Linked DNA regions of Homo sapiens. The protein of the gene in region 2 interacts with the protein of the main gene of each other region in a biochemical or structural test. Each region holds a gene or a part of one and is shown on either strand. Other genes may lie near its edges.

Evidence for each region. The genes of interacting proteins can lie anywhere in the genome.
Region 1: the proteins of NCOA7 (region 2) and AHR form a complex in vitro, tested with the Homo sapiens proteins (one study listed by BioGRID).

The regions. Positions count from the first base shown.
Region 1 is NC_000007.14:17,294,659-17,301,807, forward strand, and holds the start of AHR (aryl hydrocarbon receptor), read left to right. Parts: upstream 1-3,993; 5' UTR 3,994-4,606; coding exon 4,607-4,671; intron 4,672-7,149. UniProt on the Homo sapiens protein: Ligand-activated transcription factor that enables cells to adapt to changing conditions by sensing compounds from the environment, diet, microbiome and cellular metabolism, and which plays important roles in development, immunity and cancer.
Region 2 is NC_000006.12:125,786,241-125,794,223, forward strand, and holds the start of NCOA7 (nuclear receptor coactivator 7), read left to right. Parts: upstream 1-4,719; 5' UTR 4,720-4,827; exon of another isoform or gene 4,828-4,954; intron 4,955-7,983. UniProt on the Homo sapiens protein: Enhances the transcriptional activities of several nuclear receptors. Involved in the coactivation of different nuclear receptors, such as ESR1, THRB, PPARG and RARA.

The DNA.
Region 1 (7,149 bases), on a different chromosome or scaffold from region 2:
CTTTCCCCATAATCAAACTTCAAATTCGTAAGAATTAAAAGTCCGGAAAGAAAGAAATCGAAATCCAAACTTACTGCATGTTAACATTTTAATAATGTACTTTCATGTGTTAAAAACCTAAATGTTTCTTGCAACAAAGCATTATCCATAAGTGAATAAAAATAATTTTGACTAATAACAAATTATTCCTATCTTGTAGTTTCTTTGTCAGAATTAAGATTAGCATTATCTATTAATTACTTCTCTGTGGCTTCTATGACATTGTTGTATCCAAGCAAGTAAAGAAGACATTAAGCATTTAGAAACAGCCCTTAGATGTCTATGTCTGTTCTTCAGTGTTAGGAGTAAAAGCAAGCAATGTGTAAACTGATTATTTTTAATAAATGAATCAGAACAGTTCAAAGTCAGATAAGTTATACATTTTAGACTGGGGCAGAAGTCACAAGACCCAGATTCTAGGCTATGATTAGCAGGGCACTTGATCTCTCTGGGCCTGAAGTTTCTCACCTGTTAAATGAAGGATTTAGTTATGCCAAAGGTCCCAAACTTTCTCAGTTCACAGCATTCCTAGTGTCTCAGTAATTTTTTCATGGTGTTGCAAGCTAAAAGAAACACCTAACAGTTCCATTTATTAAACAGTTAAACCCAAACTTATGTTTGTCTATCCTAACAACTTAGTAGCTATTTAAAAAATAATATACATTAACATTTTTTATTCTTAATGGGATGTGCACATCTGTTGGGCACTTCATAACTTCTCAAACTTAGGAATAAACTTGGAAACCGCTACCCTCATTCCTGTTCTACAGTAATTTTCCCATAGTCCTTGTGTTTTATTACAGCAATTTACAAAAACACAGCCTCACAAAGATACGATGTCAAAAGGAATGAAGTACAATTTAATGTGTAGAAGTTCTGAACTACCTCAAGATAGTGGTTTGCACGGTGTCCAACTGATGTCACTGTGTTGGCCTTGAAAATTTAAAATATCCCATGATAGTGCCCCTGTGAGTTTGTTGTGGTGCTCCTGGGGTGCCTCAGTACATAGTTTAGGAAGCATGGACTACCCTCTGTAAAATACTTCATATAGCTACAATGTGTGTTGTAAACTGTAAAAGACAATTCTGAGGGCCTGAAGTAAGGAGCTGCAGAATTGAAGAGGAGATTAAAAAGTGATACATGTTCAGTCTGCATGAAATTCCCCTTCCTCCCCAGGTCACCTATAAAATGCCTACCTATGCCTACCTATAAAATGCCTACCTATGCCTCAAAACTCAGCTCAAGCTCCCTCAGGGAGGTTACCAAGTTACCCTTACCAAGTTAAATCCACCTATTATACATTCTCACAGTATTCATTTCACAGTACTTGTCCCAGTTGTAATTATACATTCATTTGTGTAACTATCTGGTTAATTCTTGTCTCTCTCATTAGAATGTAAGCTCTAAGAGGAAAGAACATGTCTGATATCACTACTGTAACCCACAGTGTCTGGTATATTATAGGGGCTAAAATCTTGCTTAGTGAAATGAACTGTGATAGAATAGGTTTAGCATTCATTTTGATTATTTTCCTTTATTCAAGAACAGCTGATATTTATAATAGCATTCCTAAAACATTTTTCTCATACTATTTCGCAGGAGAAAGAAACCCATACACATACAGCTGCATCTGAAACCTCAGAAACTAAGCTCAACCCAATTGATTAAAAGGATGTTCTTTGGATAAGGTAATCAAATGTTCACCGACTCTTATAGCCAAATTAATTATTATGAGATAAAAATCACGTAACTACAAAAAAAAAAACTGCTCACAAAAAAGTTTTTAAATCTTAGCAGATGGACACAAACCATACTTTGAGAACCATGTTCCACAGTGCCAATACAGGAAGTTTCTAGATAATGGCAGCTCATTTTTTAAAAATGGCACTACACTATACTGTATTCACATGCCAGCAAAACTGTTAAGGTAAGTTCATGTCACTATTAAAATAAAATGAATTCTGGGAATTTTGTTGATATTCAATTTTAATCTTAATTATGCAAAGATCTGTTACTTAACTAAGACTATGTAACATAATATAGCATATGACTTCTGGATAATGAAAATAATCCTAAACTTAACCATAAAAAAATAAGGGTATGAAAGTCAAAATAAGGTAGAAAATGACTGCACCAAATAGCCAACAACCTTAAAAAGGGTAGGATTTTTTTAAATCACTAAATTAAGATTGGTTCATTGCATTTAGTACATCTCTTTTATGAAGAGGAGTTATAAGCTACAGAATCAATAAATTATGTTTTGATATAAATTTTTCACCCTTAAAGTTCCTAGCTAGGAGGAAATTATTCTTTTACACTTACACGTTTTAGATAGAATGGCTATAAGTAAGCACAGATAAATGAAGAAATGAAAGAGAAGGGAAAAATAGAGATGGTTGATTCTGCCTCTGCAATTGCTAATTCATAAACATCAAACTTTCCCAGTGTACACTGTCTTCTTTGGGAATTTGCTCCATCTTTTTCCTTAAACTGAAAGGTGGCTTACTGAGGCTATCACTTTCCTAAAGGTCTCCCCAATACTGCCTAATTATTTTCTCTTATCACAGGATACAGGGTGGATGTCCATCTACTTCCTTGTTGTCACTTCCCAGATCACTTTCACTTTATGCTCTTCTAAAATTAAAACAAAGATCATCGACCACAAAACACAATTGTTCTTTTGTAGCTCATGCTAGAATACCCTCTTTGTTACATCTCCTTCATTTTTCTGATCCAAAATTTAGTAGCCTACTATATCTCACCCACTGTCCTTCTTTCCTCCAGCTATGGTAGAGAACTGCTCCTCCAACTTTATGTACATTTGAATCACCTGGGAGTTCCTGTGAACTTCGGGTTCTGATTTAATAAGGACACCCAAAGAGTCTGCATTTCCTGTAACTCTCAAAAGAAGCTGTGGAGTACTCTGAATAGCAAAGCACTGTAAGTGCTGTTTCTGTTAGTATCTAATCTATTAGTCCTAATCTCCCATTTATGCTTTGGCACTCATTCCCTCCTGCTTTCGGTATCTTAATATCTATCATTCCTTCACTCTTCCCTCAGGTTCCCTACATAGTTTATCTCTACCCCCTCTAAGCCGCTCAGTATCGCCCATTAAAGAACTAAACCAAAACTAGAAAACCCTCATTTAACCCTTCACTCCCCCTACATACAATCTGATGTGTCTCTCATCCACAGCTAAACTTGGAAGAAAAATTGCCTGCTTGAGGATGCCATTTTGTTATCTTCAGCTCAATCCTGTACCCACTTCAATGTTATTTGCAGGCCCATTACCCCAACACTGCATTCACGAAAGTCATCAGTGACTACACATTGAGAAAACAAGAATGACATTTTCAGTTCTCAACTAATTTGAATTTCTCAACAGTATTCAATATTGTTAATTACTCCCAATATTTTTCCACATGGTCCTCCATGACACAATACATAATAGTCCCCTTATTATCTATATTCCTGTCTATTGTAAAGACTTCCCCCGCACACCAAAAAAGGTCAAGGAAACTCCTAGCCTTCAAGTCTCAACTCAAATCTGGCCTTCTGAAGCCTTCCCAACTAGGAAAATATACAGTCCCATTGGTTGTCTACCAGTTGTCTACCAGTTAATTGTAATTCTTAGCCACAAGTTAGCTGACCCACCGTCTCTCAAACAGGTGAAGTTAAGCTCAATATTTGGCATATCTTGATATACTTTGTACAGTCTAGCTACAATAAGTTTGCCTATGCACGAAGATGGCTACCGGCGGGGGGGGGCGTCCTTACGTCCTACGTCATCACGTGCCGGGATGAGGGTGGGGCCCTCAAGGAAGACGGAATGGAATCCAGATGGGCGGGGGCAAGCAGGACGGGGCGGGGCTACGCGGGATCTGGGCGGGGCGGGGCCGGTGAGGGGTCGGGGGTGCTCCTGCTATTCAGCCGGTGCGCGCGGCGGCGGGAGGCAGTGGCTGGGGAGTCCCGTCGACGCTCTGTTCCGAGAGCGTGCCCCGGACCGCCAGCTCAGAACAGGGGCAGCCGTGTAGCCGAACGGAAGCTGGGAGCAGCCGGGACTGGTGGCCCGCGCCCGAGCTCCGCAGGCGGGAAGCACCCTGGATTTAGGAAGTCCCGGGAGCAGCGCGGCGGCACCTCCCTCACCCAAGGGGCCGCGGCGACGGTCACGGGGCGCGGCGCCACCGTGAGCGACCCAGGCCAGGATTCTAAATAGACGGCCCAGGCTCCTCCTCCGCCCGGGCCGCCTCACCTGCGGGCATTGCCGCGCCGCCTCCGCCGGTGTAGACGGCACCTGCGCCGCCTTGCTCGCGGGTCTCCGCCCCTCGCCCACCCTCACTGCGCCAGGCCCAGGCAGCTCACCTGTACTGGCGCGGGCTGCGGAAGCCTGCGTGAGCCGAGGCGTTGAGGCGCGGCGCCCACGCCACTGTCCCGAGAGGACGCAGGTGGAGCGGGCGCGGCTTCGCGGAACCCGGCGCCGGCCGCCGCAGTGGTCCCAGCCTACACCGGGTTCCGGGGACCCGGCCGCCAGTGCCCGGGGAGTAGCCGCCGCCGTCGGCTGGGCACCATGAACAGCAGCAGCGCCAACATCACCTACGCCAGTCGCAAGCGGCGGAAGCCGGTGCAGAAAACGTGAGTGTCCCGAGCGCGTCCTCATCGCGGGGGCTGGGCGCTCAGGCACGCGGGTGCGGGAGGCAGCCCCACCCCGCCCCCAAATCCCTGCGATCCTGGGATTAGGTCCATTCCCGGCACTGCCCGTGGAATCGAGGTTTGGAGGCCGGCTGGGAGACAGAGGACTTGGATTCTCCCGTTTTCAATGATTGCATTTTAAAAATTGTCCTCCCACCCATCCTCTTCCCCCGCACCAGTGCATACACACCCTCTCACATTTGCAACTTTGTTCTTTCTGATTTGGTCCTGATTTGTTGACAGCTCTGATCTGCCTTGGGCTAATGGATTAGTTAGTATAAACCTGTCTTGAAATCTCCTTCCACTTTTCATATCCGCATGGGTTAGGTTAGAGGACGGTCTTAATTCTCATTCTTCGTAGAGTTTGGTAAGGCGAGATGTTTTAAAGAGCTAAACACATGCTGACTTTTACGAAGGGGCTGAGTGCCTCTAAAGGTACTTTTTGGTCCCCACCAACTGGCTTTGTGTTGCGCTCATATTTACTTATTTGGCAGCAATTTTGTAGCGCTCATCGTGACCATATCGGTAAAGTGGATAGAAGTGGTAGCAGGTGGGAGTGGATGCAACGGACAGGATACGGTGGAGGATTTGTATTCTTCAGACATCTTTTTCGGAAGCTTGCTTATCACTTTTGGGGTGGCTTTAGGGTCTGTAAAATAAAAGATTTAGAACTGCATTTGAGAGAGGTTTTCATTCTTAACATCTACCTCTAATTCTTTTCCCCTTCAAAGTTTTCTTCTAGTTGAGTGAGTACAAACTTGCTTTTGTCGTTGTCGGTTGATTTTGGTGGAATATTTGTGTGAGATGGCCAATTTTTTGTGTGTGTCAGAAAAAACTATCCGTGCTCAAAACATTTCCTGTTGTGAGGTGGTTGTATTCATGTGTTTATTCCAATTTTTTTATTTCTAGATCTCTGAGTTACTTTACCTACATGTGTTTCAAGTTTTCGTAAACAATTTTAAGAACTCTTAAACGTCTTCTCAGACCAAATCAGAAGTGTGCATTTTGCTTAGACTCCAACTATCACTAATGGGAACCAGAAAAATAACACTTTAAGATTTACATTTAAAACCAGTTATTGGTTTAAAGTTTCATTCTAAAATTTTAGTTTCCTTTCAGAATTTCAGTTATCATAGTTCTTCAGAAGTATACTTATGAATTGGCATTAACAGAGGATAATAATCTATAAATAGACTGATGAAAATTTGGAAGTTTTATGGTACAGTGTGTCTTAAGGGAATATTGTCAAACCAGCAGTTTTCTACCTTGGCAGTTTGAGACATCGGTTATTAATACTTTTAATTTTGTAGAATGGTTTCTTATATTAAAGTATGTTTGTCTTATTTGACATTGTCATTGATGGTTAAAGTTGGGAGGCATCCCAAATGTCTGTTCTATGTGTTTATTAATATAATAATACACTTAGCATCATATATAATAGGGGTGTCATGGGTTTTATGTGTATGGTGAGAAAACATGAAGATCTCCCTGATGTGTTTTTAAGATACTGGGTTTCAGTTAGGGTGTTATCAAAGGACCTGGATGGCTTTGTAAACAAAAACAAATGCCATAATTTTGTATTCATTACACAGTTTAACATTTATGGATTTTGGTTATTTTGCGTAAAATGTACTTTTTATTAGATTATCCTAATATTATACTTACTTAGTTTTTAATATACTTGTATTAATTTCTTATAATATAACAAAAGTATTTTTTCCATTCACCCACATTTTGTTAGCATAGATGTTTATCAGATCTCTGCTGAGCACCGTATATTGCTTCTAATCATACAGATGCCTTAAATATTACCAGCTTGCTCTGTAAGAATAGGCTAGTGCTGGCATTTTCATTATCAAGTGAAAGTGTTTATATAAATTATTTTTACCTGAATGAAAAATTGTTAACTTTATAATGCAGTTAATCAAAGTTTATTTTAGAAATGAAGTCATTAAACCTAGTATTAAATTTGAGTTTTAAAATTAAACTACCAGTTTGTGGCCTAATGAGCCCCAAAACATGCCAACATTGGGGAAAATAGATCTTGTTTTGAGCTGAAAATGCTATCCAGACCTACTTAACTTTGACCTCTTAAATGAGAGCCATTTTATTTTATTTACAGATAAAATATGCTGTAGCATTATTATAGGACTGTTTAAAAAGACAGCCAATTAAATATAAATTTTATGGAATATAAGTATTCCATAAAATTTTGGAGTAAAGTAGGTGACAATTGTAACCTGAAGCTCTTTCAATCTTGAGTTGAATTTATTAAGAAAAATCAACCCCCCCTAGTGGCGGCTCTCACATTGAAAATTATCTTTATTAGTAGGAAATACATTTTAAATGTGTTCAATTTAATCCCACTGAAGTATCTCCAACATAGTAGACTCTCAATAAATATTTCCTTTCTTTTTGGAG
Region 2 (7,983 bases):
TCTGCGCTAGAGAAAGAAGGATAGGTTCACTAAAGAGTGAATTTTCTTGGTGCTAGTAGCCTAAGCTCATCACTTAATGCATAAAACTCCTCTCCCACAGCTTTTGAGAGACCTTCCAAAGACATTTCAATATTTTCAATAGCTCCAAGGTCATTACTTAACCAGTTTTGAAACTACACTCAAAACTTACAAATTTTGTTAAAGAGTAAGCAACTCCCAAATTCTCCTAAGTGACTTCATCCTGTTATTTATACATCACATATGTACATATACATTCCTATAATCAAGTAATTCTAAATTTGGGACAAAATATCATACACAATAATCATTGTCTTTTTTTTTTTTTTTTTTTTTGAGATGAAGTCCGGCTCCGTCGCCCAGGCTGGAGTGCATAAGCGCGATCTGAGCGCAGCGCAACCTCTCCCTCTCGGGTTCAAGTGATTCTCCTGCCTCAGCCTCCCAAGTAGGTGGGATACAGGCATGTGCCACCATACCCAGCTAAGTTTTGTATTTTTAGTAGAGACAGAGTTTCATCGTGTTGGCCAGGCTTGTCTCAAACTCCTGACCTCAAGTGATCCACCCTCCTCGGCCTCCCAAAGTGCTGGGATTACAGGTGTGAAAATAGGCCAGGCGCAGGGGCTCATGTCTGTAGTCCCAGCACTTTGGCAGACTGAGGCAGATGGATTGCTTGAGCCTAGGAGTTTGGGACCAGCCTGGGCAACATGGCGAAACTCCATCTCTACAAAAAATACAAAAATTAGCCGGGTGTGGTGGTACATGACTGTAGTCCCAGCTACTTGGGAGGCTGAGGTGGGAAGATCAATGGAGCTGGGAGTTGGAGGTTGCACTCTAGCCTGGGTGACCTAATGAGACCCTGTCTGGAAGAAAAAAAAAAAAAAACAGAAAAGAAAATACAGTAGAGCTCTAGATCAACCAGAGACTCAGGAGCCTTTCATTTGGGCAATGTTACAGCAATATTTGCCAATATTTTTAGAATTCTAGTTTCATGAGACATTACTAGTGTTGTATTCAAAAACAGAAATACTAATCATGCTTCTTCATTACAAGAATTGTCTTTAGATAGATAGGTAAGAAAAATACCGAACACATTTGCAGGATTGCCACTGTTTGGCAATGTTTCTCTAAGCCCGCCTACCTTAGCCCTCTAGAAAATCACTTGGGAGAAATCCTGTTGCCTGAACCCAGAGATCCAGCTGCCTCCCACAGGCTCAGCGAAACAAACAAATGGCGGAGTGAAGTGATCCCTCTCTTCTTCCTTTAAGAGAGGAAGGGATCTCTGCTTCTCTTATCTACTCCAAAGTCTCATCATACAAAGGTTGTTTATTCCTGCAAAAGTTAAATGACAAATCCACCTAAATTATCCTCCAATGGCCCATACCCTTCAACAGAGAAAGGCCAGTTTTCATATTTAAAGGTGGCCCTCACAGCCATAAAATCAGTGTGGTATTATATTTTTTCATTAATTCAGCATTTACCAAGTAACTTCCGCAGCCAAGAACAGTGAAAAGTGTTAGGGATACCATTTTTAAAAACTTTATCATAATAAAGTATATTATTCTAGTAATACCTTTGATTGATGGCCACATTCTAGACTTTAAGAACCACTTGGGATTATCTCCTTTAATTCCTATATCCACCCTATAAAGTTGGTACTGTTACCATTCTTTATGGATAAAGCATATCCTTTACGGATAAAGCAACTGAGGTTAAGTAGTTTACCCAAGGTCAGCACGTGGTGGAGCTGTAGTCTGAAGCCAGAGCCTGAATTCTTAAAGATTACCATGTTCTTAAGAAGTACACTTTCTACTGAGGTTTGATCTGTAGTATACTAAGATTTCCCAAATTATTTCATGTATTATATCTTATCTCCCAATTAAAATTTGACCTTCTATTTAGGGCAGCACTGTTCAAAAGGATTTTCTGCAATAATGAAAATGTTCTAGTTTGTGCTATCCAAAAGCACAGTCTAGCCATAATTTAAATTTAAACGGCTACAAGTAGCTAAGGCATACAGTACTGGACAACACATGCAAGGAAGAGTTTCATTTCTTCCGATTTATCTATAAAGCCAAGGCTTAGGTAAATCAGTTAATGGAAAGGAACAAGTGAAGAATCTTTAGGAGGAGTTTGTACTCCCTTAGCTGGGGAGCAGAAATCTTTATTATATCAGGACTTTCAGTATAATAAAAATGTTATAAGAAGCATATGATACAGCATGCAGTCCTAGAGGAGTTCATAAAGATGGATTCTTACATTCCTTGCAATATCTTTGGAAGACCTTTTTTTTTTTTTTGAGATGGAGTTTCGCTCTGTCACCAGGCTGGAGTGCAGTGGTGCAATCTCCGCTCGCTGCAACCTCTGCATCCCGGTTTCTAGTGAATCTCCTGCCTCAGCCTCCCAAGTAGCTGGGACTACAGGACCCACCACACCCAGCTAATTTTTTTTTTTTTTTTTGTATTTTTAGTAGAGATGCGGTTTCACCATGTTGGCCAGGATGGTCTCGATCTCTTGACCTCGTGATCCGCCCGCCTCGGCCTCCCAAAGTGCTGGGATTACAAGCGTGAGCCACTGCGCCTGGCCAGAAGACTGACGTTTTATAATTGATGGTCACAACTTTAAAAATTCATACTCAGTTATAGGTTTTTGTCTAATAAAAACATCACTGCTTAATTTATTTACAAAACATGGAGTCCATAGAGAGAAAAACAACAGGGGCCTCTTGATAGTAAAAGGATGAGAAACAGGGAAAACTTGTAAGTCAATGGACACTTCCTTCAGAAACTACATTCAAAACTTAAAAATTTTGTTAAAGAGTAAGCAACTGCCAAATTCTCCTAAGTGACTTCAACGTGTTACTTATACATCAGATATGTACATACATATTCCTATAATCAAGTAATTCTAAGTTTGGGAAAATATCATAAATAATAATAGTTATCTTTTGAAAATAAAGTGGGGCTCTAGATCAACCAGTGTCAGGAAGCAGCCAAGTCACACCCCACTGGGTGCTTCCTGGACAAGCGCAGTGCAGCTCCCACAGGGCCTCACACCCAACCTTCAATTTGCTTAAAAGAACTATCTCAAAAAATCTTAGCTATTTAGTCACAATTTGTCCTTGCCAGGGAACATGTTTTTCTTTTGCCTGATTTTCAATAACCTTAGATTGCAAAATCATAAAAGCACTCATCAAAGAACTGTGAGAGCAGCTCAGCTTCCCTGGAGATCTCAAACCATGTTCCTTTGATACAATGCAATCAGCTCTTTATACTTTAGGAACCTAATTTTCCCTTACTAAATGCTAAACAATTTACAAATAACACAATGGCTACAGAAAAAAAAAATCCAACATCTTTACATTCAAATCCCAAAGATATAAACCTGACGTCTAAATTAATACGTGCTTAGTGCAAAACTGGGCAATTATTCCACATTTGCAAGACAGTATAACATGACCACCTGCTGCTGAAATGCCAAAGCCACCACTGTTAACGCTTTGCTCCGCCTTCCAGAGAGGTTATTACAGCTTAAGCTGCGTCAACAACCCAGAGGAGGCTGCTATCTAGTTTATCTGTGTGGAAGGCCTGTAACACACTGTTAACAGAGTAGTTGCAGGCCCTTCCTTGGGATATTTTTCTGCGTATAAGAGTGAATGAACTCCACGGCCAGATCCTCCTAGTCATGTTGCAGTGCTGGTCATGGGACCGCAGAGGGAACAGCACCCAACTGGGGATGGGGAGCTCACAGGCACAGGCCCCGCAGCTGATGCAAACCTTCCCCCTCCAAGGTTCTCTCGAGTCTCTGCCAAGAGTCGGCTGGAGGGCCCAACTGCTATGTTCTTATTGCTGTAATGACTGCAATTTGGCAGCATCCAGGATGGTGTACCGGGAACGGGAGGGGGAAGGAGATGGTGGGCCCCTCTGTTAAACGCAACGCCAGAAGGGACACAGGATGAATTTATTGTGGCCATCGGTCCTGAGCTGGAAGGAAAGTCAAAGGGCTTTAAAGCTGGGGAAAAGCTCTAACTCCTGCTCTGCTGTCAAAGCCTTACTTCCCACGAAGAGTAGGGGCCAGGCGGGCCAACTGTAAGGGGGAAGCGGCCCGGGGTGAGGTAAGAGGACCCTCCTAGGTGCCGCTGCCAGGCGGCGGTTCGCTGGGGCAGCAAGGCGCCCGCACTCGGGAGGCGCCACAAAGGGCCGAGGCCTGCGGAGGCCGCACGCGCAGCTCTCCGGGGCGGAGCCGCCGGGATCGCGGCAGCGGAGGCTGCAGCAGCCGCGGGTAGCCGGGGTGCCCAGCCTCCCAGCTCGGAGGTCGCGGGGGGCGGGGAGGATGCCGCAACTGCAGTCCGAGCGGCAGAGCCCGGCGCGAGCTCCCAGGCCCCCGCAACCGCTGTGAGGCGCAGCGCGCGCCACTGGCCGGGAGGAGCTAGAGGCGGGCGTCTGCACAGCGTCGCGCCACCCGTGACTGCCCGCCTTCAGCCGGGCCCGGGACCCCGTAGCGGCCCATGCCCTGACGGGGGGCGCAGCTGCGGGGCTGGCGAGGCGTCGCGCGTGGGAAGAGGCCTAAGACACCCCGACTGCGGCGGCTGCGCACACCCGATCCGGACGCGGGGCCCCGCGGGCGCGCGCCTCGGAGCTCCCGCCTCCTCCTCTTGCTCCTCCTCGGCGTACGGTCCTCCCCTGACCCCTCCTTCCACCCGCCGAGAGGATGCGCTCCCCGGCGCCCAGCAGCAGAGGCCACCGCTCCCAGAAATGCATGCGACCGATCCCCTTCTCCCGGACCCCAGGAGCCGGCGCCCCCGCCCTGTAGGTAGGTGGTGAGGCGGGGCCCAGCCCTCGCCGCCGCCCGCCGCTGATGCTGCCGCCGAGAGGCCGCGAGCAGGGTCCAGGACCGGCCAAACTTGCCTCCCGCCGGGGGCTCGGTGGAGCGCTCGGAGGTGTGCTAATGGCGCTGGGCGTAGCCCCCTGTGAACCTGAAAACCTCTGCTTGAGCTCGGGAGGCCGAGCGGGGGCGAAGGAGAGATTGACCCTTCCCCGCCCACCCCTTGGGGGGCTCGTGGGGGTGCGCGCCAGTACGAGAGTGGGGAGGACAGGTTGGCATGGGGCTTATTTGGGGAGAAGACCGTTGGATTTTCAGCAGCTCAGGTGGAAATATGTCACTGTGTTTTTCCGGCTGGATTAGCAGATGCGTTCTTCCCATCTTTCTAGCCAAAACATGTAGACAGGCAAAGGGTTATTAGTGGCATGTAGAAGTCGCTGTGGATTTTTGTGTATTTCAGAGCTAGCTAGTTGGTATATAAAATCGATGGGGCAAACCCTTACCGTCAACACGTTAGGGCCAATTTAGAGAAGGTCCTTCTAGAAGTCAGATTATTCTGGAGATCGATGAGGCTGGGATATTGTTGTGCTGAGTATTTAGGAGCCTCTGCTTACGTGAAGGGATGTGTTTTAAGAGTGGCAACTTTGATACAGGTGTCGGGAGTTGAGATTCTGCTGGAAAGATGTACCGGGTCAGCCAGCAGAGGCAGCCTTGTGCCCAGCCTAACTTCCAACTCGATGTTATGCTCTGTATTTCTCAGAAACTGGTTATGTATTAATGCTTTTTTTCTCCTCTAGGTGTAAAGTTTATACATCAGAGCTTTTGGCAAGATTCCCTCTTCCCAGACTATCATTTTTTATTTTATATTCAGCAATAAGGCTTAAAGTTTTGAAAAATGCATCACTGTAAGCTCCAATTTTATAGTCACTTAGGTATAGAGATTTGGAGAAGTGACTCAGTATAAGCTCAAATAGGACAGAATCTTGAATCTGTTTTTTTTTAAATCCTGTAATCTTCTGCATCTTATGCAGAATAAGTACCCATTAGTTATTTGTTGAATGAATGAACTGTGTTTCAAGCTTTCATCTAAAAACCACAATTTAGAATCACAGAATTGTTCTGTAGCCGGTGAAATTTAATTGAATTTCAAAAATTGCCTCTTTGTATAAATAGGCAAACTCAGTTATTTTAACATTTATATTTCAATTCTGACATCTTTAGGACCATATGCTATCTTTCTGTAATATGTCATCAAGGTTATGAGGTAATTCTCCCCAACTCTTAAGTTCATTTCATGTCTAAGCTTGCAAAATTTCCAGTCTCACTGGTAATCATGCCAACTTCAACTGTGCTCTCAAACACAATTTAAAAAGTAAAAGTCGTGTTTTAAAGAAAATTGTAAGTTACGCCAGAGGAAACAATGATTTGGTTAATAAGTGATGTATTCACTTATTTTAGAGTTGAGTTTTTCAGGTTTGATCTAATTATCATGTCTTTTATCACAGGCAAAAGTAGAAATAAAACATGTAGAAGTGTCTGTGATTCTTAAATGATTCAAAATGTGTGATATAGATACACAATTTAAACTGTTTTCTCCTCGGTATAGAAACACATCAGTTTCCAAATTTGACAGCCAGGGGATTGTGAAATGAGGGTTTGCAAGATACAGTGTCTTCCTGCTTTAAAATGTTATATCATTTTGAAAAAAAAAAAGAAAAACAAGGTTAACTGCATCAAACTTTATTTGCTTTATTTTTACACTATGACATTTTCTGTTTTGATTTCATCTTTTTTCCATCACATGAATTTCATGAGTCAGTGTGAACTTCTTTCAGTCTCTGCTTAACAATATTATCTGGGCATGCTCCCAGGTTTTCTTTCTGACATTTTAATGCATCTTTACCATCTTCACTTCATATTACTCAAATGACTTATTTTTACACAATATGGTAGGCCATACTTTATTACTATTGCTTCTCCAACCTACTTATTTTCTTCCTAGATGGATAAGGAAATAAAACTTTCCTATAAAAGTTAATAAGACTGCAGGAACCAACAGTGGGAGGGAACTTATGAAAAAAATTAATTTGTTATGATTTATTAAAACAAAGCCAAAATTCCCTCCTGTAATAAAGATAATTACATTTTACACTTCTTAAATTTGTAACCCAGGGTATTGAGCAATTAATTTACCTGGCTCTTCCTTGCACACTTTAAGCTTTTCAAAAAAGCCCTCCCCTTTGGTTACAGTAAGCTCTCTTTACCTTGTTACTTATAAGCACTTATTTGTTCATTTTACAAGTAGGAGTTGAGCCTTTAACTGCTCAGTTTAACTGCTATTACTTTGGCTTTGGAATCACAGTCAAATAAAAGCTCTAATCTCAGATTTGAAGAGGTATTTTTCTCTTCTGTGTGTCCTACAACCAAATGCGCAGTGCCTCTGGGATTGGTTGACTCACTTTTGGGTCCTACCTCCTGATCCCCCAGCACTCCGCCCCCACAAGCACCACCAGAATGCAATCCAAGACCTGGATTTCCTCTCTTTATCTTCCTAAAGGCTGTATTTTAGAAACCTCTATTCCTTTCTTGCTAAATGCCATTTACTATTGTTTTTAAAATCCCAGCCCATAATTTTTTGTTTGTTTAAATTCAACAGGATCCACTCAATTCACTTGTGCTAAAATCAGAATTGTTGATTGCAGAAAAAAATATACAGAAGTAAATTTGTATGACCTTGAATTTCAGATATAGTGAATACATAAAGAGTGATTGTTGTCTACTGGTCTCCCCTCAACAGTGATACAAAATGCATTTGTTTCTGTACATGCCAGAGAATATGAATTTTCTGTTGCTAAATTTGATCAGAAGCTTAATTGAGAGAAATGATGTTTACGGGGGGTTGGCTGAACAAAGGCCATGACGTCAACCTATTCCCTTCCAATACTAGCTGTTAGACCAGAAGTCTAGCCAGATCTTCAGAAGCTGTACTTTGGTACCTTGTTTTGCATCCTTAACACCCCCCCATATGCCCACACTGAGGGATTTTATTAATACAGTCAGAGGAAACTTACTATTATGTTACTTTCGAAATGTGGTTATGATCATGGTACTTTCTATAGTTTCTGTTTGAAGACTCATGCAAGAAAT